4 separate regions of the Homo sapiens genome follow, and regions 1, 2 and 4 are each linked to region 3. The links come from fine-mapping of genetic effects on gene expression. A gene starts in region 3. Each other region holds a variant in brackets. All regions are shown on one strand. Distances are between the middles of the regions.

What was found. PIP is the estimated chance that this variant, and not a neighbour inherited with it, causes the effect.
Region 1: its variant is the best candidate, but not a certain one, in a credible set for the expression of AK8 in nasal epithelium (TOPMed, PIP 0.53).
Region 2: its variant is the best candidate, but not a certain one, in a credible set for the expression of AK8 in cerebellum (GTEx, PIP 0.51).
Region 4: its variant is the best candidate, but not a certain one, in a credible set for the expression of AK8 in nucleus accumbens (GTEx, PIP 0.67).

Annotation. Positions count from the first base shown.
Region 1 is chr9:132,840,061-132,847,792 of GRCh38, forward strand. The region is part of intron 5 of AK8 (adenylate kinase 8); the gene reads right to left. Among named protein-coding and RNA genes, the nearest start is that of AK8, 34 kb to the right of the region's middle. The variant A/G (reference allele first, on the strand shown) is at 5,020.
Region 2 is chr9:132,822,480-132,830,211 of GRCh38, forward strand. It overlaps AK8 (adenylate kinase 8), which reads right to left. Exons shown (of 13, transcript NM_152572.3): 6 at 6,166-6,247; 7 at 5,534-5,605; 8 at 4,375-4,575; 9 at 726-857. Among named protein-coding and RNA genes, the nearest start is that of AK8, 52 kb to the right of the region's middle. The variant T/C (reference allele first, on the strand shown) is at 3,417.
Region 3 is chr9:132,874,447-132,882,178 of GRCh38, forward strand. AK8 (adenylate kinase 8) reads right to left here and starts at 3,838. Exons shown (of 13, transcript NM_152572.3): 1 at 3,726-3,838; 2 at 669-753. The coding sequence starts at 3,809. SPACA9 (sperm acrosome associated 9) reads left to right here and starts at 4,452. Exons shown (of 4, transcript NM_001316897.2): 1 at 4,452-4,568.
Region 4 is chr9:132,849,151-132,856,882 of GRCh38, forward strand. AK8 (adenylate kinase 8) reads right to left here. Exons shown (of 13, transcript NM_152572.3): 5 at 5,707-5,775. It overlaps LOC124902335 (U6 spliceosomal RNA), which reads left to right and starts at 4,668; the gene lies at 4,668-4,775. RefSeq lists a silencer at 5,364-5,555 and enhancers at 6,612-7,113, 7,114-7,613. The variant A/G (reference allele first, on the strand shown) is at 2,872.

The DNA of each region.
Region 1 (7,732 bases), 34 kb before region 3:
ACCCGCCTTGGCCTTCCACAGTGCTAGGATTACAGGTGTGAGCCACTGCGCCCGGCCCCAGTCACCTCTTAAAGGTAGTACTATGGCTCTCAATGCTGCCACATTGGAGATTAAAGTTCAACATGAGTTTTGGAGAGGACAAACATTCAAACCAAAGCAAGCATCAAGAAAGCAAATTCCTGCTGCAGTCACACTGAAGGTCCCTTCCCTCACAGCCCAGCTCCATCTCCAAAGGAGTGAACCGAGCATCTCACGTGCTTGGCTTCTTGCATTACGCTCGCGTTTGGCAACATTTTGAACCATTCCTAACCTCCAGAGTGGTGGGACTCAATCCCAAGTGGACACTCACACACACACACACACACACACACACACACACACACACACAAGGCAAGTGAACAGGCATGAGGAAGGCAGTCTGCAGCTGGCTCGGAAATTTCACTGATTTTTTTCCTCAGGCACTACACTGAAAAGACTGCTCACTCTCATTCATCCAGGTATGGGGATATAATAGAACTCACTTGAGTGGTGGTTTCAAAAGTGCACCACAGGCCAGGCACAGTGGCTCATGCCTGTAATCCCAGGAATCTGGGAGGCTGAGGCAGGTGGATCACCTGAAGTCAGGAGATCGAGACCAGCCTGGCTAACATGGTGAAATCCTGTCTCTACTAAAAATACAAAAATTAGTCAGTTGTGGTGGCACACGCCTGCAATCCCAGCTACTTGGGAGGCTGAGGTGGGAGAATCACTTGAACCCAGGAGGCGGAGGTTGCAGTGAGCCGAGATCGCGCCAAAAAAAAAGTACACCATGATGTTGCTGGTAGATCATAAACCCACCCAGAAAGTGTCCAGGACTGTTTTCTAACACAAAGCCCAGGTATGAAGAAGTAGCAGACTTCTACTCATAAGGGATCCTCAAATGGCCTTCACCCAAGTCATCCAGCATGTAAAAAGCATCAACTCTAAGTGGACCTCCGGGCTGGGCACAGTGCTAAGTGCTATGCTTGGATCGTCACATTTTAATCAGACAGTGAGACAGCTGTTACTTCAGAGCATGCGCCGCAGCACCTAAGGCCATGCTGCCTGCCTGTGAATTACAGGGCGCTCTACATAGAAAAGCACTGCAGCCCGAGCAGGCTGTCCACACCAGTCCCTGTCTGAGTGTCCCTCGCTGCTGTCTGCCAGCCCAGATATTCAAGGGTCAGCTCAGGTCAGCAGATGTGAACCCGAGCCACGTGTGGAGCCCATAAGAATCACATTCCCGGTGCGTGAAGGCCTCTGCCTTTTGATGAATAATAAAATTCTCCGCACATGACGAGCCGTCATAATTGGGCACAAGTCTTTCCTTTGCCCCCTGCAGCGGCGTGGGGGTAGCATCCATACATGAAAACATTTCTTTTTTTCTTTGCCAGATATTTTCCAGTCTGTGATATTCCAAATGTCTGGTGCTGGTGACATAAAAATGCCTTTGTCAGAAGGCCTGGCACAAACCTGCCGAGTCCAGCTGAAGCCTGACCTGCCAGTCAGGTAGCCAGGAGCCTCTGCGTGGTGGCCTGTAAAATGCCACACTGACCTGGCCTGTGGGACGTCAACCAAATTCCTTCCTCCATCTGGGCCTCAGTTTCCCTTTTCATAAGAGGTTTTTGTGGGATGATTTCTGTAGATGGCTTTTTAAAAGACATTGATAAGACAAACTGGGATTCATCCACCAGGTGTGATCACTTTTATGTTACACATTTATTTAATGCTTTAAAATCAAGCACCCTGGCGCTTGATTCTTGTTACAGTTGATTAGAGGAATAGAGGAGGAGGAGACAGAAAATCTCCTGGCATAGGAGATCAGATTGGAAGACTGGTTCTCAAAAACCTGAACCCGGGGTCCCAAGGGGGGACCTCCACCCTTAGGGTGCAGTGCTTGAACTTTCTCAAGGTGTAGGAGTCCAAGGCCAAATGGGAAACTTGAAAGCACTAATGATGGGAATAATTTTAGAATACAAGGAAGAAGTCGCTAAACAGATCCAAAATTCACAGAAAACAAAGCTAGCACACTGGCCAAAACAATCTCCCCAAAGAAGCCTGAAGACAAGTATGTTCCTAGTGTTGAAACCATTATTAGGGCATCCGGATGTGACTGGATAGGGCTGCTGGATTTTAAACACCTTTGCCTCCTTGGGCCATGTGCATGTTGGGATAAGATTTCACTGCCACGGTGGTACAGAACTGGGGAATTATCCAAATGGCATTGATTGATTCATTATTGACTGGTTCATTCATTCATTCATTCATTCATTCATTCTATAAATATTTACCCAGCATGGAGTCTCTGCCAGGTATCACATGAAAGATCTTGCATTCCTACTCCTAACTATGACAGTGCAGAGTTGGAGAGCAGAATGCTGTGAGCATGTGTAACAGGCAGGTCGGCCTCATCTGGGGCTGGGCAAGGCCAGGGGAGGCCTCCCTGAAGAAGTGACTTGAAGCTGAGGCTGAGGAATGAGAGCAGTTTTCTAGCTAAGGGGTGGGGTTAAGAGCACTGTGTATTCCTTTTCCACTGCTGCATAACAATCTTAGTGACTGTAGACAATACAGTTATTATCACATGGTTTTCAAGGAGTCTGAGCACAGCTCAGCTGGGTCCTCTGCTCAGTCTCAAAGGCTGCAGTCAAGGTGTTGACCAGGCTGTGTTCCCATCTGGAGGCTTGACTGAGGGAGAACCCTCTTCCCAGCTCATCTGGATTGTTGACAGAATCCATTTCCTTGCTGCCACATGACTGAGGGCTCCGGTTTCTCGCTTGCTAGGGGCTGGAGGCCCCTGCAGTTCCTAGAGACCAGCCATGTGGGCTTCTCCAACATAGCTGCATACTTCATCATGCCAGCAAGGAGGATCTCTCTCTGGTCTGCTAAGGCACATTCTTACATAACATAATGTAGCACAGGAGTGACATCCCCTCACCTTTGCCACATTCAGCTGGTCCTGCCCCCACTCAAGGGGAGGGGATTACATAGGCATGGACACAAGGGGGTGGGAAATCACTGAGAGTTGCTTAGTGATATAGTTTGGATATGTGTCCCCACCCAAATCTCACATTAAAATGTAATCCCCATTGCTAGAGGTGGAGCCTGGTGGGAGGTGTTTGGATCATGGGGGCGGGTCCCTCATGGTTTGGTGCTGTCTTCACAATAGTGAGTTTTCAAGAGATCTGGTTAAAAGTGTGTGGCGCCTCCCCCTCCCACTGTCTCTCTCTTGCTCCTGCTCTGGCCACATGATGTGCCTGCTCCCCCTTCACCTTCTGCCGTGATGGTAAACTTCCTAAGGCCTTCCCAGAAGCAGAGCAGATGCCAGCACCATGCTTCTCTTATAGCCTGCGGAACCATGAGCCAATTAAACCTCATTTCTTTATAAATTACTCAGTCTCAGGTATTTCTTTATGCATTGCAAGAATGGCCTAATGCAATTAGGGTCTGGCAGCTGCCCACAAAGGCCTGAGCAGGGTGGGTGCAGGTTGACCTGGAGAAAGGTGGCGGGTACTGAGTGGGTAGATGAGAGAAGTCCAGGGATGAAGCTGAACCGCAGGCAGGCCCAGGACACACAGGGCTCCTGGAAGCAGTGGAGGGTCACAACCACATTTATTTTAAAATAACAAATGTTTCTCTATGTTTAAAGTCATCCTCAGAAGGGTGCACTTTCAAGAAAGTGTGAACATCAGTTGCCTCCAGGGAAGGAAGCTGGGTGGCTAAGGAACAGGAGTGAGGGGGGACTTTGGTGCCTTTGGAACCATAGGAATGAATATATCATGGTAATGAAATAAATTCATTCATTCTTTAAAAAGCCATCCTTCCAGCAGCAATGTGAAGAAAGAGTTGGGAAGAAACCAGGGTAGCTGTGGGGAGATGGATCAGGTTCCAAATAAAGGAAAGGGATTCTTAGCAATTTAAATAAAATGGAGCACAAATGGTGACTATGGTCAAGGTAAAATTTAGAATCTCTTTGGTACTGAGCCTTTCCCCCCAAGTTTCCAGAACTTACTGTCTTATGTCTTGGCTTTTCTTTGCCCTACAGGGGTAGTCTGAGGATTCGGGCACATTCTCTTGATTGTCCCTAACAATGGCTAATGGGTATCCAACAGGTAGAGCCAACTCCTTTTGATCGTTCCAATACAGAGTGCTAATTTTTCTTTCTCTAATGCATTTGATGGTCACTTCAAAAAAAAATTCTTCAAAGAGACTGCATTAGACCAAAAAAAAAAAAAAAAAAAGAAAAAAGAAAAAGAAACGACCCCCCTGCATTAACTACAGAATCCTGATGGGTTATGATTGCGTTATTTTTCCCTGAACACTATTCCCTGCATTCTTTCTGTGCTCTAAATTACCAATTCTAGTCCCTGTGTAGCTAAATAATAATAATTACCATATAAATGAATATGCATATGTGTCATTTTTCTCCCTAAAAGCAAGAAAGCCTGTTTATTTTGGATGAGGGTTTGTTTTGTTTTTGAACAACCAAAGCACATAATTAGAAGTCTAACCTCTTACTCTTGAAATCCTGTCTCCAGCGGGAAGAGATGAAAAGGCAATGGATGCCCCTTAAAGGTTAGAAGAAAGTTTAAAACAAATTGAAGGAGATATTTCTTTACTCTGCAGGTAACAACAGCGTGGACATGATCAGAATCACAGAACTATAAGACTAGAAGGGATTTCCATGCTCAAGACTAGAAGGGATTTCCATGCTCAAGTCCAACCCCATGGTTTTATAGATGGAAAAACTGAGGCCTAAGGAAGTGAAGCTCTCACCAGAGTAACACGCTCTGTGCCTTCCTGAGATGCAACCTTTGAAACAAGAACAGTGGCCAATAGTACAACACTGTGTTTGCATCTCAGTTCTGGGATTTAATTGTGGGATCTTCAGCAAGATACACAACCTCTTCAAGGCCTGGATTCTGCATCTGTGAAATAGGGTAGACAGCAGTGCCACCTCCGCAAGGTTGCTGTAAGGACTCCACAGCACACGGTCCTGCTGCC[A/G]ATGCTACACTCCCAATCAAGGGGAGTCACCCAGAATGTAATTACAGCCTCTTGCATAGTGCAAGGTGCACCTGCAATGTCATGTAGCAGATAACATGCCAGACCAGGCGCGTAGACTACAGCTACCACCATCATCAAAATAATCATAATAATAACACACATTATAAATACTCAGTCAATATATTATTTATAATACAATGTAATCACATATAGTGTAATGTAACTAATAACGATGTCAATTATAATTGAGATTTTAATTTCTAACAATAGACTTCATCATCATTTTTATGATGGTGACTTGGGATGCATGGTCCTGTACTCTGTCCACACTGCAGGTGCACTATGCAAAGAGGTTATGCAGACCAAGCTTTTAAATAAGCTCAGGAAGAATTCACAGAAGTTAAATGCATATTTGAAAGACTATTCTAGGCCGGGTGCAGTGGCTCATGCCTGTAATCCCAGCACTTTGGGAGGCCCAGGCGAGGGGATCACTTGGAAGTCAGGAGTTTGAGACCAGCCTGGCCCACATGGTCTCTACTAAAAATATAAAAATTAGCCGGGCATGGTGGCATGTGCCTGTAATCCCAGCTACTCAGGAGGCTGAGGCAGGAGAATCGCCTGAACCTAGGAGGCGGAGGTTGCAGTGAGCAGAGATCGCGCCACTGCACTCCAGCCTGGGCAAGAACGAAACTCCATCTCAAAAAAAAAAAAAAAAAATGACTATTCTAGATCACTGAGGGCATGTTTGGGATATCCAGCTGCAAACACAGAGAGAATCACCATATTTTCCCCAGAAACTATCACTCAGTGAGGTAGAAATTTTTTAAAAATCACGGAAACAAATCTGTCCAGGCAGCTGGATCCTGTGTGAAAACTGTGCAGCCTTGTTAGATTCTGGAGTGGGGAAAGAAGGGCAGTGCGGCTTCAAGGGCGTGTATATAGCCAGTGGGACACACAGACGATCACTGGCAGCCCACCCTGAGGCCCTGCATCTCTGGATTCTAGATTTCCACCTAGAATCCAGAATGCTTACCCACCAGAAACATTTTCATTGGAATGCTGTAACTTGTAAAAATTACTTACACGAAATAGTACTGTTTCAAATGTTTTGAGGTTGGAAAGGAGAGAGACTTTGAGGGTTGCTCAGTGGTATCCAGACACCCACCCTGGGCCTTCTGCAATGGATGTGTGGGGTGGATGGGGCAGAGGGGCCCACAGATGCCTTGGCCCCATGCCAAGCCTCTCTTCCAGCTATGAAGTTCAGATCTGCCTCTAACTGACGTGACTCCTTTGCTTATTTATCTGGTTTATTGTCTGTCTCTCCATGACTAGAACTTCTGTTCCTTGAGAGCAAGACGTTTAACTCTCTTGTTCACTGCTTTGGTCCCTGTGCTTAGCAAAGTGATTTGTTGCATGAGAGAATAGATGAATGAATGAATGAATGAATGAATGAATGAATGAATGAATGAATGAGTACTTTTAGGAAACACTGACTGGGGAGCCGGGTAGGCCAACAAACCATGACAAGGCTTTTGGTCACGACTCTAGTGGAGGAACATATCAGGTGGCATGGGGACACGTTGGGGGCCTGTGAATGGCACAAAACACGACAGGGAGTAGATAGGCTTTGCCCAGCCTTTGAGCTTCTGTCCTGGGCTGCATAGCACAGCCCTGGAGCCCCTGGGTCAGAGCGCTGGCCCTGTGCACCATGTGCCTGGTCTACCCTGGCCAGCCCTGCCGCTTCCCCCGGTGTGGCTCTGGGCGTGCCTCAGGCCCTGCAGCTACAACATGGGCACAATAATAGTAACACTGGCCATGTAGGGTCCCGTGAAGCTGGAGAAGCTGCTGGGCGTAGTGCCTGATGCCAGGCTCAGACGCATGCTCCATTCAGGTCTCTGGCTTCTCCCGGGCCGAGATAGAGAGCTGGAGCAGAGGCTCTGGGCCTGCCTGCTCTCCTGCCTGCCTGGATCCCAGAGACTTCTGCCTTCCAGTGGTCAGCAGGCCAGCTCCCGGCTTCTGCTGCACTAAGGCAGCTGGTTGAAGCAAACACTCTTGACCAGGAGAGCGGGCCGGGGGAAGAGCGGCCCAGACACAGCAGTTCCTGCTCAAGTTCCTGGGTCACAGGTGGTTTGGGGATCATAGCATCTTCAAAGGAAATCTGAAAAGGGAAAGGCAGGTCTTCTACCACCAGGCGTGGGGAAGTCCTGCTGCCTTTGCTGACTAAGACAGACCGTGGCGCCATCTCCACCGGGCCTTTCGTTTGGCAGGGGCAGTGATGGTGGCTCATGAGTATGCCACATTTTTTAGGTGCGTGTTATTCCTGAGGATATGAACTACATAGTTTCTCCCTTCCTGTGTGCTTAGAACGAATGCTCATCACACTGACAGTCCTGGTTCCAGGAACTCTTGGCATATTGAATTTGAAACACTGCCTGATGGGCAAGACCATATCCAGCTGTGCTTTCACAGACAGCCCCCACCCCTGCTGAGGGGGTCCAGTCCTGGGCAACTAAGGTACAATTAAGCCAAAGGAGTACCACCCCCCTATATTTGACCAAATTTGATGAGTAGCTATCATGATGAAAAAGAGAAAACAGCTTAGCTTTAAAGATCAAAGAGAGCCAGGCATGGTGGCTCATGCCTATAACCCCAGCACTTCGGGAGGCCAAGACATGTGGATCACTTAAGCACAGGAGTTTGAGACCAGCCTGGG
Region 2 (7,732 bases), 52 kb before region 3:
GGTCTCGTTTCCTTAGTAAATACAGTAGAGGCTACTTAGGTTTGTGGAGCATGGTGTGCGTAGGGGCAGTGCTTTTAACTCCCTTCAACCTGGCAGTGTGTCTCTGCTACAGTTTCTTCCTGATTCCCATCCCTTTATCCTCCTGAACACAAGCTGGCATCCAAGACCGCCTGGGACCACCCCGGGAAAGACCTGGAGAGCTGATTTCAATATTTTCTCTCTTCCTGGTAAAATATTTATTGAAACTGTGCGGAGTGAGAAGTCTTCCTCTGGTTCAGAAATTGTCTGCCTGTAAACACACTGACCTGGGTTGGGGGCACCAAACGAGACTGGAGAAAATAAATAAACAGCACATTCCTATTACGCAGGAGCCAAGGCTTCAGGGGAGATGGCAGGGGTGAGATGGGAGCCACCCCTGGTGTACAGCACAGACAAACCCCCCGCTCCAAAGGATATAAAAAACGATGACTGAAAAATGTTCTGTCTCTTTGGGCTGTGGACATGTTTTTAGTGGTTAATGTTTTTATGGCAATATTCCTCGGGAGGAAGAAAATTCCTGCAAAGATGGACTAACAGAAAATGGTTAAGAACAAAGAGCCAGAAAGAGAAGTGATACTGACCCTTCCCCCCCAACACCACCCCCCATAAAATGAGAGCTGGGGAGGAGGGGCAGGAGGCAGGGAAAGGCTCTCGAAGCTGGGCAGCCCAGCACCTGGGGCACTCACCATTGACAAGCCTGTATTTCTGGGCCAGGAGGGCGGCCTGCAGACTTTTCCCACTGCCCACAGGCCCGAGCAGCAGCACCCTCGGGGTGAACGGGGCATTAGTACGATGGTTGCTTTGGACATAGGTCAGAGCTGGAAAGAGAGGATATGAGGATAATAAACCCAGGTCCTAGAGAACAGGAAACCCGCTTGCAGCCCCTCTGCTTTGACTCTTTTAACGGCAGTAACTCTTTTTCTCTTTCACAGCACCATGGAAGCCCTCTGTGCATCTGGCGAAGAGGCAGGGAAAAGAATTACGTGGCAGGCCTGGGCACCAAGGCAGGGAGCGAGGAGTGAAGTCCACAGAAGCCACCCTGGAGCGCCGCCCTGGATTCCTCTCAACACAGGCGTCTAAACACGTGCAGGTGTCTGCATTTCCTTCCAGGCTGAACTAGGGCTGGCTGTGTTGCAGTTGGGAGACTGGTCCCAGGACATGATAGCACTCTCTATAGGGCTGGTGGCTTTTCCTACTGAATCGGGCTGAGCCTCCCAACCGGAAGCCCCGGAACTAGGCTGGTCTCCTAGAAGTGCACGCTGGCTTTCTGCTAGGTGCACCTGAATGTCAGACACAGGCTTTGATAAACGCATCCAGCCACATGGGGGCCCAGTGCCCAGGGACTTCTAAAGGACTCGAATTGGAGAGTAGTTTGTGCAGCTGCACTCTGGTGACACCAACTTTGTTGCGACTCTCCAAAGAGGTAGTGATCAAAGAGGTCACAGGAGTGGCCAGATGTAGCTGCATGGCCCTGGCCTGTGGTGTGCCCCTGGCATTTGGTGAACAAAGAAGTGAGGAGATGGGGTGAGTGTCTCCAACAATGAGGCCACCTGCACCATGGGGGGCACCGGATGCCAAGAAGCCACAGGGCAAAGCTACTGAACATCAAACCAGGTCACCTCCCGCTGGAGCTCAGAAACAGGGAGCTGTGAGAAAAGGCTAATGAGGCTGTAAAGGCAGCATTTCGGGCACCTGAGGCAGGAGAGATGCCCACAGATGAGGCACGGACCTGTGCCAGCCCCCACCCCAGCGTTCAAAACAGGGCATCCTTCCCCAGGGAGACCTTCCCCCTCCTGCCAAGGCCCCAGACTGTCCTGTGCAAACTCAGCCAGGGGTGGCCCCGTTACACCTTCCTGCCAGTCTGCCTTTACCAATGTGCCTTGCGGTGGGTGCCGTGCTGGGTGAGGGGCCAGGCCATCGTGCCTCCTTCAGGAACATGCCACCCAGGAACCAGGCAGGTTCCTCATCCTCAGCACTACTGACATCTGGGGCCAGAAGATTCTTTGTTGCGGGGCTATTCTGGGCACTGTAGGATGTTGAGAAGCATCCCTGGCCTCTACCCACTAGGTGCCTGCAGCACAACCGCAAGGTATGACAACCAAAAAACCTTTACAGACATTGCCAAATATCCCCGGGGTTGCGGTGGGGGCAAAACTGCCCCCGATTGTGAACCGCTGGGATATGTTCATTGTGAAAATCCTGAACTCTCAAATCTTTGCTGGACTTTTAAATTGGAAGGGTCATTAGAGATGCACAGTCCCCTCTTTTTAGAAGGCAGAGATGAGTTAGAATGGACTTTTTTCCAGGTTGTGATCAGCATCATCAATGGCATGTACTAATTGCTACGACAAATACTCTATAGGCACCATCTCTTTTCTTTGGCCCAACAATCCCATGAGGGTTGCGTTATTCATGTCCCATTTTACAGATGAGCCAATTAGGCTGAGACTTGGCAGAGCTGGGGCAACTCTCCCAAACCACCTGCCATGGGTACCATTCCTCCACTGAGAGAAGCCCAAAGGAAGCTACTCAGGCGAGGCTCTCTTTATTCTCAGACCTTCCATAATCCCGTGCATCTGAAAAGCACAAATACTACAGGCAAAGCAGCCTGCTTACAAATGATGCTTAATTTACAGTAAATAACTAAGTTAATTAGAAGTAATGATCCCCCAGACAGTCTCAACATCTAATTATTCTTTTTAAAAATGTGTGGTTGCTGGATGCACTGCAGAGAGATTAGAAAAACAACACAGAGAGAATTCTGCATTCCAATTTTCAATTTATCTCTCTGCATTATTAATTAATAATAATTAATATTCAGACACTCACATTTTTATTTACAATTCCAGGCATGAATTCTTTATGAACGATCATATGAACTTTTAAATTTAATTAAGTAATTTGGAAGTAATTAATGTGTAAATTCAGAATCATGGCATAAGATAAATGTTGTGGTTGTTTATCTTAAGAGTGCAGTGTTTGTTACTAATGACCCTTCCGAGATGCAAAATCACTGGAAAATTATAAGCCATCATAAGCCTGGCATTTCTTCTTTAAGTAGCGACATTTTCTACTAACCCACCCGCTGGCTGATTGCTCCCTTCAGAGGGCGAGGCTGTTCAATCCACGCCGGCAAACACCGCATCTCCGAGCTCAGTGTAGCAATGAGGTTTAAGCACCGAGTCTACCAGCAGGAGAAGGTGCTGGGAAAGTCAGCAGGGAAGGGCTTGAGGGAGCTCAAAACCACTTCCCCGGCAAAACAGGACTTTTCTTGGAGAGTTTTGAGAGAATATATGAAAAAAAGGACTTTGTAAACTGTCAAGTGTCTTAAATATCTGTGATGTTCCCATCGTAAACGCTTCATTTACCCAACACTG[T/C]GTGGAAGGGTAATTTTGAGACGACTGGATTTTGAGATACTGCATTTTGAGATGACTGAAGCTCAGCAAGACTTTTGAAAAGGATAATACAGCTGTTTGGGGATAGAATTATTCTACCTTGCCCTTGCCTTTTTGGGCAGGGTGTTGAACAATGATAGGAGCTATGACGACTGATGTTTATTGAGGCTTTTCTCTGTGCCAGAACTGGGCTTGTGGCTGTGGACACGTGATTTGGAGAATCCCATTTAATCCTCACCTACGCCTGGGAGGAGGGCACAAGTTTTGTTCCTATTTTAGCGATGCCAAAACTAGGGCTCCGAGGAGTTAGGAGAAGTGCCAGAGGCTGCACAGCTGGGCTGCGTCGGGGCTGAGATTTGAACAGGTTGCTCAGCTCAGCCATCCCCGCACCTCGCACAGGCTGCCCGCAGTGGCTCCCGAGCTGCTGTGAACATTGGCCATTGCTGTGGACAGCAACGCAGTGCCAGGCGCGGGGCCATGTATCTCCATCCTAAATGAAGCATACCACCTGTGCTGTGTGTGTGTGTTTTATTGTGTTGTGTGTGGTGGTGGTGGTTTTGTTTTTGTCTTAATCTTTATATATTTTTTCTTTCCTCTCCCTCAAGGTCAGGCTCAAACTTCTTGCTACCATGTCCCTCCCACCCCATCCCTTGCCTCTCCTCCTCCCGACCCCACGACCACCAAATCTGCTGTGGGCCAGAGATGTGACCACATCTGAGTGTGGGACATTAGCCCAGGGTCTCCAAGTGGGGTACCCCCAGGGGCTCTGCACACATGCATTTCTGGGCAGGGAACCCGGGTCATCTATGTCTTGACTTCCAGGGTCCCAGGCATGTCCCAGACACTGGCCACTACCAGAATAAGGGACAAAGTGGTAGAAGGCACAGCGAGCCCCGCCCTTGGCCGTCTGTCCAGGGTGGGGCTGCCTGCTTGTGTTTACCCTGGTAGAAGACGTCCACACATGGCTGGTCAGCACTGATGACTTTGAGGATTTTGGGGTAGGAGGGAATGACCCTGACGATGTTCCTATGATACTCCAGCAGTTTCTGAGCCGTCTCCAGCTCTGAGATGTCCTCTGGCACCATGAGACGGTTCTGGATTTCAGATTCGGGTGGCCAGTCAAAGGTGGTGTGATAAATCTCTACAAGGAGAGAGGTGCACAGTTAGAAATGGCCATGCAGGGGCCCTGTGGGCGCTGCTGTGCCTGGCTGGGGTGCTTGCTGTCCTGGAGGCCAGGCCCTACACATTCCTGGGGTGTGGCTGACCACGGCAGGACACCGTTGCTCAACACCAGCACTTCCAGCTACTCTGAGCCTGCTCTTAACTATTATTCTTGTTACAATACAAGAACAGGACCCAGGGCAAGGGCTGCCGTGAACTTCTGAGCACTTACTCTGTGCCAGCCACTCTGATAGGCACCTGCAGACTCCCATTTCATCTTCACAGCCATCCCATCACCCATTAGGTTGGTATTTTCATCCTCAAGTACAGATAAGAAAACTGAGTCTCAGGTATCCCATGTCTACAGCCAGAAAGGGACAGAGTTAGGGATCCACAAACCCAGCTCTATCTGCCACCACAGCGTGAGGCCCGGAAGATCAAGGGCAGTCCCGTCTCCCCCCACCCTCCCGCCAGCCCCTTGCTGAACTGCCTGGTCTTCAAGGCCCAGTTCAAGGGCCCCGTCCCCTGCAACACCTGCCAATTCTCCCAGGTAATGCTCATGCCTCTCTCTCCTGTATAAATACCAAAGAATAAGGGGTGTCAAGGGGGCACATAATTTGTCCCAGGGAGAGGCAGACATGTCCCCTGGCTCCTGTGTGGGCCCCAAGCCCAGGTGCCTGGCATGACCCCCCACACTCTATTCTGGTTCTGCCACAAGAAAGTCTCCTCCTTTAGCCTAAACAGGCCTCCATTTCCTCATCTACCAGAATGTACCCTTGCCAGTGTCTTCCAGCTCAGAGCCCAGCCTGTGGCAGCCTTCCTCGTGTCCCTCTGTGGGTGCCCAGAGCAGAATGCGAGGTCAGGAAATGGTAGACGGGCTGTCATCACCATGGACTCTGAAACCCCATGGGGCTGGGTGGGGGTGGCCGTAGCCATACCTCCAGTTTGAGGGTCGATTCTCTTCCCCAAGTTTCTCTCGATCAGGACCGTGTCTGGAGCACTCAGCACAACTGGGCAGAGAAGAAAAGGAGCAAAACCAGGCATGTCGGGCAGCGGGTGCCACACATTTGAATATCACAGACCAATACTTGCTTTACGTTTTTTGCTTTTCTGTATAATGACATTAAAACAACAATCATCTCCCATCCCCGTGAATTCCTAAGAGAAAGGTCTTCTCGCACCCAAACACAAAGAGTGTAACGTTGGGACAGAGCACGGCCCATGACGGAAAGTTCTGCCTGTTAACAATTTCCCTCGTCACAGATAACGCCACAATGGGCATCTCTGTGCGCACTAAATGCTTGCACAGCATTCTATGCTATGCATAGAATATGCATTTCCTTCCTGAGACAAGGAATCGCCAGGCTGAAAACGAAACCCCACTTTTCTTAAGAACCAGCCCTGAATATATTTAGCTCTGTGAAAAATTCAGTTGTGCTGTCCTCTTCCTTGCTGGGTCTCAGACGGTGCCTGGGCTGAGGTCAGGAGCAGGCAGCATGAGCGGGGCGCTCACTGGCCACCCCTTGGGGCTGCAGCTCTGGCAGGTGGGGGACCCTTGGGAGCTACTCACTGACGTGTCTGGGTGTGATCCCCAGGGTCTGGATCCTCAGAGCCTGCTCACGCGTCTCAGGGATGCCATCCAGAATCCAGCCCTAGACAGAAGATTCAGAGAGGTGCTCATCTGTTTTGAGTTTTAGATTTTTTGGAATTATTTTAAAAGGAATATAATAGCTTTATAGAAAGACTAGAACTTTTAAGACAAAAAAAATGTTTCTGATAGCTACCTCACCCTTCTTTAAAAACTACTTTGTAATATATTATTATATTCCCTTCCGAATCATATCTTGGTGATTATAATCATAACATATATATTTTACATCTTGATTTTTTTTTTTTTTTGAGATGGAGTTTCACTCTCGTTGCCCAATCTGGAGTGCAATGGCACAATCTCGGCACACTGCAACCTCCGCCTCCTGGGTTCAAGCAATTCTCCTGCCTCAGCCTCCCAAGTAGCTGGGATTATAAGCATGTGCCACCACACCCGGCTAATTTTTTGTATTTTTAGTAGAAACAGAGTTTCACCATGTTAGCCAGGCTGGTCTCAAACTCTTGACCTCAGGTGATCTGCCCACCTTGGCCTCCCAAAGTGCTGGGATTACAGGCGTGAGCAACTGTGCCTGGCCTACATCTTGATTTTTTTCTACCACACAATAGCGACCACAAGCATCTCTTCATATCTGCACAGCTCCTCATTGTCCACATTATCAACGGCTGTGCAATGTCCCACCAAGAGAATGTACACAGCCACTTAACTATGTCCACAAATGAACATTTCAACTGCGGGCAGTGTTCACTATCATAGATAATACCTCGATGAACATCTTTGTGCATCTAGCGCTTTCCACATTTTGGATAATTTCCTAAAGACAGTTTCTGAGAGATTCCTGAGACCAGGGTGAAAACAAAACCCCACTTTTGTTTTCATTTTCTGCCCCATATATCTGCAGGAACACCCCATTTTTCTTAAAAAAAAAAACCCTGGACGATGATTCCGGTTTCTACTCTGCGGCTAACTTGTTACAGGATTGAAATTCCTCACCCATCAGCCCCCTCTTGGTACAGCTAGGGAACTGGTTTAGAGGTTTATTTTTACTATTTATTTATAGAGATAGAGTCTTGCTACGTTGCCTAGGCTGGTCTTGAACTCCTGGGCTCGAGCAATCCTCCTGCCTCAGCCTCCCTAGTGCTGGGATTACTGGCGTGAGCCACTGTGCCTGGCCTTTACTAACTCTTTAAATCCAATTGTGAAAGTAATATACAATCATTGTACACTGTGTGGAAAATATTGAAAAGCTGAAATAATAATAAGAGTCACTGGTAACACCTCAGACCCAAACAAGCCACTGTCAACATTCTGGTATATCTCCTTCCAAGCAGCAAGTGCAGATACCTTTTTTCCCGGTGGCTGGGGGTTGTGGGGAGGGGAACCACACTGTACACACTGTTTGGTAATCTGTTCTTTTCTAGCAAAAACATTTCATGAACGTTTTCCCATGTCACAAAGTGCTCCTTGCATAGAAGTTTTCACAGCTGCCTGGTATTGTATGAATTGACCTGATGTTAACTGATCCCATATT
Region 3 (7,732 bases):
TCCAACGAAAGAAACATAAAAGCTCCAAGACATCGGTCCTCCCCAACAGCTCACAAAGGACAGGACTGATCCTCCACTTGGCAAATGGACCATGGAGTGGAGTGAGGGGCCTTCCTTGAGTGAGCGCCTCCCTCCTCCCCAGTTCTGTGCTCCGGCCTTGGGTCAGGCTGACCTGCACCGGCCAACTGCAAAGGTTTGGGGAGCTCGGAAACTCATTAACAGGCTCCGATAATGAGACCGTCGGAAAAGCCCAAGAGCTTGCCTGTCTAGGTAGACCAGAAACCAAACTTACACCTGACAAGTGGAGTGATCAGAGAGCTGAAACCCAACAGGCGACATCAGCTAGGGCAGGCGAAAGCATTAATAATTGATTCCATGGGTCATTCTGGGGTTTTCATTTTAATAACTTGGCAAGAGAATTTTTATAAGTTGTGCTCCAAAAGAAATCAAGGCATTTTTCAATGAACCACCACCTCAAGTTGATGAAACCCCTCCCTTCTGACCTCCCTTCAGACACAGGTAGGACAGAATGGTGCTCAGCTATTCTCGGGATGGGGCAGGGTTCCTGGAGAGGAAGAGGAGGAGGAGGCAGAGGAGTCAGGGAAGAAGGGGAAGGAGGAGGAGGGGAAGGGAAGACGAGGAGGGGAAGAGCCCCAGCCAGTGCTCACCATTGTCGTTGTCTCTATGCAAGTGCTGGATCATGAAGGGGATGGGATCTTCGGGCTGGTGGATCAGGAGTTGCTCCAGCATGTTCTGTGGGTGCAGGGCAGACACCCAGGTGGTTAATACCTGCAAGGGCACCTGGTCACCACAGATACCAGCTATGGGGCCTGCTCTCTCCACTGCACCCCACCAAACATGCCTTCAACCTGGGACCCAGCCACCGCCCCAGCTGGCATCTGCTTGGGTCCCCATGAGCAGAGGCATGAGGGGGGCCACGTGGTGCTGCTGCGGAGGCACCTATGGGGAGGCAGAAGTGGAGGAGTCTCGCCCCTGATTCAGAGCAGGCAGTCCAGGGCTCTCTCCCCTGGGGCCCTTTGAGCTTCCCAGACCAGCCTTCTCCAAGTTCTCAAGCATCACCATTCCCCTCAGAGCCTTAGCAGATGCTGTTCCCTCAGCTTGGAAGCTTCTGCCTTGTCCTCATCCTGGCTAACTTCTGCTCAGTCTCAGATCTCAATGGGAACATACCTTCCTGAGTATGTGCACTACGTAAATATGTCAGATGCTCCTGCACCTGCCTGCGGGCATCGCCCTGTTCCACGCCTCACCCTGTCCCTACTCACCAGGCCACCATCCCCCCGGCAGGCCATGGGTTCTGTGGGCCTCCTTGTCTGCCTAGAGCCCTTGGCACCCCAATACCTGGCAGTCATAGCAGATGCCCAGCGCAGATGTTTGCTGGGGAACATGACCGTCACCACTAACTGTGTCTCTCCAGAATGGAACAGAATGTTACCAGCCAGATTTCTAAATAGTCCTGGGATATTCTGGCCATTTCATCCAATCAGGCAAGCATATCAAGAGAAAGCAGCTTCTGGGGTTGCAGAACCCTAGGCAGAGAAATGAGGAGGAGCTCATAGCAGCTGTGCTGCTGCAATAAGGGGTATCCTTGAGCCCCAGGGACAAGGAGGGAGGGGCTGTAGCCCTCTTGGAGTGAAGGGAGTGTGGGGCAGGGAAAGAGCACCGAGCCATGAGAAGTCTTGGTTCCAGCCCCACTGTATCTCATCAGCAAGTCCCTTCCCTTCTCTGGGCCTCAGCTTCTCTGCCTGTTCAGTAGCACAGCTGGAGTGAATTCATGTTTGTATGTCACTGGTGCGATGATGGAATGAGATGATTTTAGATGGTTCACACATAAATATTTTACATTTCATGTTTAAATCATTGTGTATTTAACGTGTATTAGAAATATAAGTACATCAAATCAATAATTTCAAGGATATCACTTAGGATGAGGCAAAAGCGGCTATTTAATTTTTTAAAAGGTGAGTTGATTTAAACAAGTGATTAGTTTAAATGGAGGTGCAGTAGCGGTTATGCAAATCTGTACATGTGATACAACTGCACAGAACTGTATGCACAACAAAAACATCAATGCAGGTAAAAATGGAGGAAATCCAAACAAGGCCTACAGTTCAGGTAATCCTATTGTACCAATGCCAGTTTCCTGGTTTTGACAATGTGCTACAGTTATGTTAGATGTTATCACGGGGGCAATGTGGGAGGGGAGACCAGAAATCCATACTATTTTTTAACTTCCTGTGAATCTAACATTATTTTAAAATCAAAAGTATAAAAAATGGAAATGGTCAAAAACATGGAGGGAATCCACAGATGACTAAGGACTGGAAATACTGGACTGAAAGCTTTCTTGTTGGGAGGCCGAGGCAGAAGGACTGTTTGAGCCCAGGAGTTCAAGACCAGTCCGGGCAACATAGCAAGACCTCGTCTGTACTAAAATTAAAAAAAAAACATTAGCCAGGTATGGTGGCCTGCACCTGTAGTCTCGGCTACTCTGGAGGGACTAAGGCAGAAGGATTGCTTGAGCCCAGGAGTTCAAGGCTGCAGTAAGCCATGATTGTATCACTGCACTCCAGCCTGGGCAGCAGTGCAAGACCCTGTTTCAAAATCAATAAAAGCTTTCCTGGGCAATTCCTCCAACAATCAATGTGGAAAACACACCAGGTTCTCTAGAGCAGACAACAGGGCTCCAGATGATCCCCCATCCTGCCCTGACCTGCTGACTTCTAACCCAGCTAGCTATTTGATTTGTGATTGGCCACTCAAGCAGTTTTAGGAATCTCTTGCTCTCCCTCTATCAGTTAACACTTTCCGAGGGAAATGTGTTTGATGGAGGTGCAGACACGGGTTTCTTCGTCTGGGCTCAGCTGTCTAGTGTGCAGGGCAGAACCTCAAATGACCACAGACACCACTATGCCCTCCATGCCATGCCCCTGGGGATGGGGTGTACCCTGGGAAGCAGACAAATGATCTGAAAACTGAGCTCCAGCTTCCCCTTGCCTCTCAGAACCTTTGAGTGGCTGAGAGTTCTTCCCCTCCAGCTCCTGAAAGCCTTGACCTCCACCACGTGCAAAAGGGAAAACTGGGGCCCTGGCGGGGACGGGGCCTCGCCCAAAGTCACACGGTGAGCTGGGGGCCCAGTCAGGCCTGGAGCCAGAATGAGAGCTTCGGAGCTGCCGGGGACGTCTGGCCCTGAGGAGGAGGGACCAAGGTGGGAGATGCTGCTGTCCCAGAGGCGGCCCTCTCTGAGGATGGAGATGCCAGCTTGAACTCGGACAATGCCCACCTCAGAAACCTGGGCCGAGAGGCTCCCCACAAATTCGACAGATGGTAATTGTCAGCGCCGGGAGAGCCCCTGGGAGACCACCTCTTGCAACCTGGCATTTCACAGGTGGGGAAACCGAGAAAAGGAAAGGACTGGTTCCAGACCATAAGGCCCGCTGGCGGCACAGCCAGGACCAAATCCCGGCTCGAGTGGCCCCCTTCCTCCCCCTGGGTCCGCCTGAGGCAAACCCGGGCAGGACCAGGAGCGTCCCCAGCTCGAGGGCCCCCTCGGGGTCACGGCGACACACGAATCGTACATCCCGAGTTGGGCTGCTTCGTGGGCGCGCGACTCGGCCCCAGCTGCGGGTCCCGGCCGCGCACCCGACGTCGCAGTGGAGGCTCCCGAGCCGCCGCCAGCGTCGCGACGGGCAGGGGTGTCCGGTCACCTGCATCAACTCGAAGATGTGGTTCTCCTCCCCGTACTGGGGCATCTCGGGGGGGATACGGTGCGGGGCGATAGTGGCGTCCATGTAGCCGTCTCGGCTCGCCGCTCCCTAGTAACCGCGTCGCTAGGGCCGCCGCGCCGACTGCGTCATCAGCACGCGCCGCGGCCCCGCCCTGCAGGCTCCGCGCCGGGCCCAGATACCCGATCCTCGGTCGCGCGGGTCGCCCCCGCCCCGACCTCCCCGGCTGACGCGCTCTGCGGCTCGGGCAAGTTCTTTCCCCAACCCCGGCCTCGCTTTTCCCATTTGCGCATCTTAGCGGGGGACACCCTCAGGTGGCTTCCAGCTGGGCCTCCTCGTATCTGAGACCCCCGACGAAACCCAGAAGGGGCAAGTCGGCCCTCCGAGGGGACGGGAGGCAGAACCTGCTTCTGGTTCTGTCAGTGCTCCCCGGCCCGGCTCCCTGTGCCTCAGTTTACCCATCTTTAAAACAGACGCGGGAATAAATGTGGGGGAGGGTGTTTGAAGGGGGAGGGGCGTCCATGAGATGGGCCGGAGGTTCGAGGATCGGGTGGAAATCCTCAGCCCAACTCCTAGAGTCGAGCCCCGGTAGACCCCTCCCAGCTCCCCGGCTCTGGCCAAGCCGCCAAGTGACCCGATTGCTATGGCACCGGCGGTAACAATCACGCCCGCGGCCCCGCCCCTTCTCGCCCGACGTCCCCACCCACCCTCGCCTCCCAAGTCCTGGAACGGGCCTCCCCACCCTCCGGGGCACCGACACTCACGGAGTCACTCCAACTTCTCTGGGTGCTCCGTGGAGCGAAGAGCGCTCTAGGACAAGCAAGGGTAAACAGGGATGAGTGTGGGTGGGCCCACTCGGACCCCACCCCGGCCTCTGGGTCAGAAACTGGAAGCTGGGGTGGAGGATGGAAAGATGGAGGGGTCCGGAGGATGGAGGGGCCTGCACAGCTGTCTCGGGGTGGGGGCGAGGGGAAGGTTCGCGCTGGAGACGGAGCTTTTTAAGTCGTATGAATTCCCAGTGGTACGGGGCAGCTTGATATTTTATTAGTCGCAACACTGAATTGGGATCTCTAGCTCTTGTCTGTTGCCGTTAATCGTAGGAGCTGTAAGAGTTTGTTGAACTCTTTGTGCTCTCGGCAAAATTCTGTTGTCTCTGTACCTTATGGAGAGGGAAAATGGCACAGTCAATGCAGACAGCCCCAGCTTCAAGTTCTGGCTCCGCTTCTTACTGTGTGAGCTTGGCAAACTCTCTGCTTGCTCCGTGCCTCACTTTCCTGCCCTGTGAAGAGGGAACTGCTGAAGGATTTCAGGAGCTAATGTATTGGAGAGTAATTGGCATGCAGTAAGCACACAATATATGGGGCTACTATTAGTAGTAGTATCTCATTTAATCGTTCCAACAATCCTGTGAAATAGGCACCTTCATTCCCATTTTACAGATGAGAAGTTGGAGGATTAGAACAATGAGGAGTGGTTGGCTGGGTAACTTTGGGTGAGTCACTTCCCCTTTCTGGGCTTCTTTTCTCATCAGTTGTTGATCATACAGCCTTAGAACCAGAAGGCCTCTTGAAGAAGAGGCTAATCCAAACTCTCTCATTTGACAGATGGATAAACTGAGGCCCAGAAAAGGGGGAAATCTTGGCTAGGGCCACTGGTTAGATTGGGCAGAGCCAGGGCATGAACTCTGCATCCAGGCTCCAGCTAAAGCCCTTTTCTACCAGCCATCAGCCCAGAGACATGCCCTCCCAACGTAAAAGCCAGCACTGTTGCCTCTTCCCCTCCAAACCGCTTCCTCAAAGTGTGTACACCTTGGTAGGCTTGTCAAACCCAACTGTAAAGATAGCTGGGGAAGAAAAGGAAGCTGCCTCCCCCTGAGCAAAGAACACAACAGCCATGCCTGCCATTTGCACTGGAGAGGTTTGTTTTGCTTCCTGGACATTTCTGAAATGACTTGCCTTTCTCCTCATTTATTTTAAGCCCTAGGCGCTTTTCCTACCATGATTCAATCTTCTTTAGCAGCCTGGAAAAATACAAATCAATTAAAGCCTAAAACCTATGGGTAATCATTTTTTTCCTCCCTCCTCCCCCAGATCGAGAAGTGCCCGTCCCCTGTGCCCTTCATCCACACTAATTTGGCTGCAGTGGCTCTCGTTCAAGGGACGATCACTTCGGATAGCTTATTACAGCTCCTCTCATGACATTCCTGGCGTGCATGTCACAAGTTGCTAGGATCAAGAACAGAGTCAGTTCCTCTCAACCACTACCAACCACAGCTCCCACCATGATGAGGGAAAAGCCAGGCCGAAAGGGCACACGCCCTTTCTCCCTGGAACTCCACCTATGTGCTCTCTCTCACTTTTCTGGAGCTTCACCTTTGAGTCATTTGTAAGCCCTGGGCCAACATTAGGGCAAGGCAAGTGATGCACCCTCAGCACAAAACTTAAGGGAGTGCCGGCAATTCAATCATTGAGGTGGATGTTTTTCACGTTTTAATGCAATATATTTTAAAAATCAAAAATAATGCTGCCTAAAATCCATTTAGAATAACATGTCAAAAATTTAAGTAAAGGTAGGCTCAGTGTTACTGATTTCTCCTTTTGCCTCAGGCCTCAGTATGGCAAGGTGCAGCTATCTTTTTTTTTTTTTTTTTTGAGATGGAGTCTTGCTCTGTCGCCCAGGCTGGAGTGCAGTGGCGCCATCTCGGCTCACTGCAAGCTCCGCCTCCCAGGTTCACGCCATTCTCCTGCCTCAGCCTCCCGAGTAGCTGGGACTACAGGCGCCCGCCACCGTGCCCGGCTAACTTTTTTTGTATTTTTATTACAGACAGGGTTTCACCGTGTTGGCCAGGATGGTCTCAATCTCCTGACTTCGTGATCCACCCACCTCGGCCTCCCAAAGTGCTGGGATTACAGGCGTGAGCTACCGCGCCCAGCCAGCAATCTTTTCTTTACAAATTCTGATGTTGCCAGCTCATGCTTCTAATCCCAGCACATTGGGAGGCTGAGGTGGGAGGATCGCTGGAGCCCAGGAGTTCGAGACCAGCCTGAGCAACATAGGGAGACCCCATCTCTACAAAAAAAAAGAAAAAAAAAAAAGAAAAAAAAGAAGAAAAAAAAAAAAAGAAAAAAGGTAGTCAGGCATGGTGGCACATACCTGAGGTCCCAGCTACTCAAGAGGCTGAGGCGGGAGGATCACTTGAGCCCAGGAGGTCAAGATTGCAGTGAGTCGTGATCACAGCACCACACTCCAGCCTGGGTGAAAGAGCAAGACCCATTCTTTAAAAAACGTTTTTGGGGCTGGGTACAGTGGCTCATGCCTATCATCCCAGCACTTTCGGAGGCTGAGAAAGGGAGATCACTTGAGGCCAGGAGTTCAAGACCAGCCTAGCTGACGTGGTGAAATTCCATCTCTACTAAAAATACAAAAAATAGCCAGGTGTAGTGGCACCCACCTGTAATCCCAGCTACTCAAGATGCTTTTTTTTTTTTTTGAGACAGGGTCTCACTGTGTCACCCAGGTTGGAGTGCAGTACTGCGATCATGGCTCACTGCAGCCTTGACCTCCTGGGTTCAAGCGATCCTCCTGCCTCAGCCTCCCAAAGTGCTGGGATTATAGGCATGAGCCACTGTGCCTGGCCTATTTTCATCTTGATTGCCGAGTTTTTTGGCGCCTCCTTAAGTTTTGCATGGGGGCAAGTGTCTCCCTCACCTCACCCTAGTTGGTCCTGGGTGAGCCGGACACCACGGGAGGCACAACAGGAAACCACTGTGCGTGAGTCAGCATGTCTGCTCCATGTGGCAGGGACCAGCCAAGGATATGGCAGGTGTCAATAAACCATGGACCCCCCATCTCATTCCCCACCTTCAGCTCTCCTTTCCATAGGAGGTTGAGCTGGAAAGAGGCCCCTGCCCTGCCTGCCCTGGCCCAGGCCCACCCCCAGGGCAGCTGCGACTGTCCCTGTGTCTGTTGACAGTCACAGTGCTGTGGCT
Region 4 (7,732 bases), 25 kb before region 3:
GCCTGTCTCAGCCTCCCAAAGTGCTGGGATTACAGGTGTGAGCCACTACGCCCAGCCGGAAGTTTGCTTTTTATTGAGAGCTCAAGAGAAAGGGCAGAAATGTTTTCATGATCAATGTGAAAGTGTTACTTAGAACAGGGGTTGGCAAGCTACAGCCCGCGGGCCAAATCTGGCCTGCTGCCTGCTTCTAAGATAAAAGTCTTTCTAGAGCACAGCCGTGCCCTTTTGTGTCTGTGTTGTGTACGGCTGCCTTTGTATTACATCAGAGCTGAGTCGTTGTGACAGAAGCCATATAGCCTGCAAAGCCTCAACGAGTGTCTCTCCATCCTTTTCAGAAAACATGTGTCCACCCCCGATTTAGAATAGCCTCTGGGCTCTGGATATCTGCCCACACCTGGGCAGAAGACCATCCACTCACAGTGAACAATTTGAGACAATTCAGATGTAAACACACTGTTCAGAGCCAGTGTTGCAGCCCGGCCGGCAGGGTGTTTGTGATGGAGATCCCATGGCTGAGGGCCATGCAGAACAAGCTCGTGAGAACTGCTACTCCCTCGCCAGCATGCTGGAAAGATTCCTGCTTCAGGTTTGGGGCTTCCCAATCAATATATTTTTGAGACAGGGTCTTGCTCTGTCACTCAGGCTGGAGTGCCGTGGTGCGTGTCGGCTCACTGCAACCTCCTCCTCCAGGTTCAAGCGATTCTCCTGCCTCAGCCTCCCGAGTAGCTGCGATTACAGGTGCACGCCACCATGCCCAGCAAATTTTTTGTATGTTTAGTAGAGACAGGGTTTCACCATGTTGGCCAGGCTGGTCTTGAACTCCTGGACTTAAGTGATCTTCCTGCCTCAGCCTCCCAAAGTGCTGGGATTACAGGCATTAGCCACTGCATTCAACCCTAGTACATTTTTTTTTTTTTTTTTGAGACAGGGTCTCACTCTGTCACCCAGGCTGGAGTGCAGTGGCGTGATGTCGGCTCACTGCAACTTCCACCTCCTGGGTTCAAGCCATTCCCCTGCCTCAGCCTACCGAGTAGCTGGGATTACAGGCACCCACCACCATGCCCAGCTAATTTTTTTTTTTTTTTTTGAGACAGAGTCTTGCTCTGTAGCCCAGGCTGGAGTGCAATGGCATGTGTACGGCTGCCTTTGTATTACATCAGAGCTGAGTCGTTGCGATAGAAGCCTCCTGCCTCAGCCTCCCAAAGTGCTGGGATTACAGGCGTGAGCCACTGCATTCAACCCTAATACTTTTTTTTTTTTTTTTGAGACAGGGTCTCACTCTGTCACCCAGGCTGGAGTGCAGTGGCGTGATGTTGGCTCACTGCAACCTCTGCCTACTGGGTTCAAGTGATTGTCCCTGCCTCAGCCTCCCAAGTAGCTGGGATTACAGGCACCCACCACCATGCCCAGCTAATTTTTATATTTTTAGTAAAGACAGGGTTTTGCCATGTTGGCCAGGCTGGTCTCGAAATCCTGACCTCAGGTGATCCGCCCGCCTCGCCTTCCCAAAATACTGGGATTACAGGCGTGGGCCACCACGCCCGGCCAATTTTTTGTATTTTTAGTAGAGACGGGGTTTTGCCATGTTGGCCAGGCTAGTCTAGAACTCCTGGACTCAAGCAATCCTCCTGCCTTGGCCTCCCAAAGTGCTGGGATTACAGGTGTGAGCCACCATGCCCAGCCTGGCCCTAATACATTTTCAAGTGAGAGACAGATGGAGAAAGAGAGAGAATCTGTAGGTGCATTTAAAAAAAAAAAAAAAAAAGACACAAGTTCTGATTCTGGGAGACAGGAAATGTGCGCCACCCGCCTTGTCAACCCCACTGAAAGTAGCTGTAATACATTCATAAAACACACAGGGCAGCTATTCGAGGACTCAGAAAGTTACCCAGTAGTAGGCAAGTTGGGGGAAAAGACTAGAATCCAAAATACCACCAAACCAGTATCTCCTGGCCTGGCCTTAAGGCAACCTGAAGGCTGAAAGTGGGAAGCAGATGGGAGAAGAGCGAGCTAGGAGGGGAGATACCTCTGTGGGGTTTTTCTTTTCTCTGTTTTCTCACACTCCTGCCTCCAGGCAGTCCTGCGGTGACTGTGGTGGCACTGCTGTGTCAAAGGGGCCTGCAGGTGCCTGAAACACTGAAAGAGGGGACCCTTCTCCAGTCCCAAGAGAACAGGGCAAAGCCCTGTCAATCCTTCCTTTCTCTGTCCTCCCACCACTTGACCCTGGTCATGGGTGCAGTCCCAGGAAGTGAGTGGCAGAGCAGGATAAATAACCTCAGTTTTCTGGCCAAAATACCAAAAAGAGGAGCACCAGGGAACTAGGAGTTATCAGGAGATGACAGAGAGGGGAGCTCAGGGAAGTAACTAAACACAGTGTTTGATGAGATCAAAGGCTCACCCCCAAGCTGTGCACGTGTGGGCCTGACCCTAAACGGCATTTCAGAGACACTGAGACATGAACTGTGGCCAGCTCACTGCCAAGTCCCCAGGTGCCCCTGGGTGATGTGCACATAGCACAGAGCTGCATGGTCGGTCACTGCACGGCACTGCAAAGTTGCTGAACACAGGACTGACATGGAAACCACACTCTGAGAAGCCTGGCTGGAACATGCAACCTGAACCCAACTGAATCAGTCATCTGCTAAGACAAAAATAATGACATTTGCCATAGGATTTAAACAAGACCCAGAGCCTCATAACAATATTTAAAATGTCCAGGATACAAAATTACTTAGCGCAGGGAGAACCAGGAACATCTCTACTCACATGAGAGCAGATACAGATGTCACCACCACGTAACTCAGATACTGGAATTAGCGGATGAAAACTCGAAAGCGGCTATTACAAGAAACTTCCAACTGGTAAAAACAC[A/G]GAAAGATACAGTCTCAGCAAAGACACAGAAGGCAGAAAGAACCGATGCGATAAAAAACTCACAGGACAAGCTCAATAGTGGAATAAAAAAACAAGGGAAGATTCAGTGACCCTGACAATAGTTCAATACAAATTATCACATGTGACTGATAGAGAGTAAAAACAATAGGGGCCAGGCATGGTGGCTCACGCCTGTAATCTCAGCACTTTGGGAGGCCAAGGCGGGAGGATTACTTGAAGTCAGGAATTCCAGTCCAGCCTGGCCAACATGGTGAAACCCTGACTCTATTAAAAATACAAAAATTGGGCCGGGCGCGGTGGCTCATGCTAGTAATCCCGGCACTTTGGAAGGTCGAGGCGGGTGGATCATGAGGTCAGGAGATTGAGACCATCCTGGCTAACACAGTGAAACCTCGTCTCTACTAAAAAATACAAAAAATTAGCCGGGTGTGGTGGCACGTGCCTGTAATCCCAGCTACTCGGGAGGATGAGGCAGGAGAATAGCTTGAACCTGGGAAGCGGAGGTTGCAGTGAGCTGAGATCGCACCACTGCACTCCAGCCTGGGTGACAGAGCAAGACTCCATCTCAAAAAAAAAAAAAAATTAGGCACGGTGGTGTATGCCTGTAACTCCAGCTAATGGGGAGGCTGAGGCATGTGAATTGCTTGAACTTGGGAGGCAGAGGTTGCAGTGAGCCGAGATCATGCCACTGCACTCTGGCCTGGGCAACAGAGTGAGATTAGGTCTCAAAAAAAAAAAAAAAAAAAAAAAAAAGAAAGAAAGAAAAAATGATAAGAAAAAAAAAGACTGGAGCCTCAGGGACCTGTGGGACAACAGCAAAAGGGTGAATGCTTTGTGTTATTGGAGTTGCAGAAGGAGAGGAGAGAGAGTAGGGTGCAGGAAGTTACGTGAAGAAATAAAGGCTAAAAACTTTGCAAGTTTGGAGGAAAATACAAACCTATAAATTCAGGAGCTCAGCAAACACCAAAAAGAATAAGCCCAAAGAAATTCATCCCAGACATGTCATAATTATACTAGTGAAACCTAAAAATAGGCCGGGCACGGTAGCTCACACCTGTAATCCCAGCACTTTGGGAGGCCAAGGCGGGTGGATCACCCGAGGTCAGGAGTTCAAGATCAGCCTGGCCAACAAGGGGGAAACCCTATCTCTACTAAAAATACAAAAATAAGCCAGGCATGGTGACGCATGCCTGTAATCCCAGCTACTCAGGAGGCTGAGGCAGGAGAATCGCTCAAACCTGGGAGGTGGAGGTTGCAGTGAGCCGAGATTATGCCGCTGCACTCCTACCTGGGCGACAGAATGAGACTCCGCCTCAAAAAAAAAAAAAAAGAAAAGAAAAGGAAAAAAGAAAACTAAAAACAAAGAAAAAATCTTGAAAGTAGTCAGAGAAAAAAATGATGCATTATTTATAAAAGAATTTGAATGACTGTGGATTTTTCATAGAAACCACAGTGGTCAGAAGTAAGTGGAGGCTGGGTGTGGCGGCTCATGCCTGTAATCTCAACACATTGGGAGGCCAAGGCAGGAGGACTGCTTGAGACCAGAAGTTGGAGACCAGCCTGAGAAATAGAGGGAGATCCAGTCTACAAAAAATTAGCTGGGCATGGTGGCACACACCTGCAGTTCCAGCTACTGGGGAGGTTGAGGCGAGAGGATCTCTTGAGCCCAGAAGGTCAAGGTTGCAGTGAGCAGTGATCGCCACTGCACTCCAGCCTGGGCAACAGAGCAAGACTCTGCCTCAAAAAAAAAAAAAAAAAAAAAAAAAGTAAACAGAGTGCTAGCTTTGGCAAGCGCATATACTAAAATTAGAACAATACAGAGAATATTAGCATGGCCCCTTAAAAATTACAAAAAAAGAAAAAACTGTAAGTGAAACATTTGTAAAATGCTGAAAGAAAAAAACTGTTAACCTAGGATTCTAAATTCAGAAAAAAATATAGGAGCCTAGGAGTTTGATAACCAGCCTGGGCAACATAGTGAAACTCTATCTCTACAAAAAGTACAAAAATTAGCTGGGTGTGGTGATGCATGCCTGTAGTCCCAGCTACTCAGGAGGCTGAGACAGGAGGATCACTTGAGCCTGGGAAGTTGAGGCTAAGTGAGCTGTGATCATGCCACTGGGGTCCAGCCTCGGTGACAGAGCAAGACCCTGTCTCAAACGTATATATACACATACATACATATATACATAAAATAAAATAAAAAGAGAAAAGTAATGACATGACCCAATAGGGTTCCTGTGAGGACACATGAATCGGTGTGCAAAGCCCTCCTGTGGCACCCATCAGTGCCCAGTAGACAGGTGCTATGCTGCTGTCCTCCTGAGCCCTCCCCTGCCCTCTCCACCCTCCTTGTGCCCCAGGAGGCCGGCCTCAGTGGACTGCTCACCTGGACTCCTGCCCTTTGACTTCACTGGGTCTGGCAGGAGATCAAAGGATAGGAGGCGAGAGTCTGGGGTACCCCTAATTCTGCCTCCTGCCGATGCCAGTCCCTGGCGCCTCACCATCACTTGTCGGTTGCCTTACCCTCCCATGCTTCTGCGATTGTCCTGTCATTAAATGCTTTCCTGTGACCCCTCTGGATGGGCCAGCTATTTCCTACGGGAACCCTGACCGATACAACGAATTCCACACTGTTCCTTTTCCTTTGACAAAAGCAAAATCCATGTCTGTAGACTGACCTTCACGGAGTTCCCGTTTGCCTGCCTTACCTTCTCTTATGCCTCTGGTCATCTCTGGTCTTGGAGATGAACACACGCCCTTCACCCTCCCCTTTATCTTGGCACTGAAACCCCTAGCTCACTGGAGTCTTACCTGCTTGATGCAATCCTCTTCAGCCAGGCGTTCCTGAATCAGCTGGACGAGCAGCGCGCTGGGAACTGTCTGAAGGAAAAAGGACACACAGAATGATGGCCCAAACCTGCTTCCTGCAGCTCAGGACACAGACCAGCACACACCCTTCACCAACGCCCTGGCCTCTGGAAAGCACCGACCACCATCGGGCCCCGCCCTTCCTCCACCCGCTGCACCCTTTCCTTGAACTCTCTTCTCCCCCCAGCATCTTTGAGGGCCTCCCTCACACATGTACTCACCTTATCCTGTGCCCAAGCCCCAACATGCCCTCGCCCACCTCCACCTGAATAACTCCAGGGCTCCCTCAGAGCCTCAGCCCCAAGTGCCAGCCTGCAGGAAGCCCTGCCGGATCCTCCCAGGCCAGGCTGGTGCTACTTCCCGTGCTCCATCATCCTGGATGGAGAACTCTGTCACTGCACTAACCACCGCACACGCTAATGGACTGCCCACGTGGCTGTGTCCCCAGGAAGTTGTAAAGCTCTTCAAGGAAAGGGACAGTGTCCTACTGACTCTGGACTCCAGACAGTGGCGGGTGGGAGGGGATTGGCTCCAAGACTCAGCAGAGGCGAGTGTGTCCATCTCTTCCCAAGTCCACAGTCAGTGACCTCATGTTGGTAACAAAATTGGCCACGGTGGGAGTGTCTACACCACAGAAATGATAAAGGCTACAATAAGGACTCCCCACCCTGCCCCCAGTGCTGGTTGTTGAATATTGACCAGCAGACCAAATGGTATCAAGGATATAGGAAGCCCTGTCGACCATAATGAAACTTCAAATTCCTTGATGCATTCAACAAGCAGCAATCATGACGGCTAGCATTTGTTGAGCACGTGCTATGTGCCAGGCACTGGGCCAAGCATTCCATTCTTTGCTTTTTGTAACAACTCTGTGCCATCTACACTCCACTTACAGTAACACGGGCCCCCAAAGAGGAATCCCAAAGAGGAGTCGCCCTCTTGCCCCCTTCTGCCTGTATGGTCTGGGTGTGCTCAACTCTATCCTCAGATCCAGAGGAGGGCCCTGACTGGTCTAAGCCAATCCGCATACCCCACTCCTGACCACTGTGATTGATTCAGAGTGTTGGCCCTTTTCATAGAGGAGGAAGCTGAGCCTGGGAGAGGTGAAGCTGCTTCCCCAGGGTACTCCGCACTCTCCCTTCTCTGCAAAGGACTGGGGAGGAAGCAACTCTTCTCAGGGGAGTCGCTGAGGCCTGGCCTGTGCCTTTCCTTGTAGTGCACAACAGGGGCTAAAAATCTCCTCTACACCCACCCACATTTCTGAAAAAGGACATGGGAAGTAGAAATACATTCCAATCAGAAAGTTCCTTGCTGGGGGCGGGGGCCTCCTGGCACAGCCTTTCTTATGCAGAGCAGAGACTCGGACTTGGCATCAGGGCTCACCTCCCACCTCTGCCCAGGGCAGGCTCTCTGCTCCTGGCGGCTGCGATACAGCCAGCTGGGCGACCCTGGGCAAAGCCTTGACCTCTTTAGGCCTCACACACCTAACCAGTAGAAATCAGTAATGAGACTGCAAATGTGGCTTTTATTTTAATTTTCCATACACTCCACTTACAGTAACATGGGCTCCCAAAGTTCCTTTGAGGAGTCACCCTCCTGCCCTTCTGCCTGTATGGTCTGGGTGCGCTCAAGTCCATCCTCAGATCCAGAGGAGGGCCCTGACTTGTCCAAGCCAATCTGCACACCCCACTCCCAGCCACTGTGATTGATTCAGAGGCTGCCTGGGACCCAGTCCCAGCTAGTGAAAGTCAGGCCCAGGACATCAGTGCAATCATTAGGGGCATGAACCCCTGCTTTCCACCAGCTCAGAAGCTGAGAAAATGTAAGAGCGGGAGCTGCGGCAGCCACTTCGTGGGCATGACGGGTGTGGAACGGAATGAAACCAGCACAAAGGGAAAGAGAGAAACCAGACCCAGCTGCAGAATGGCTTTTCCAGGGATGGGGAATGGGAAGAAAAAGGGGAGATAGC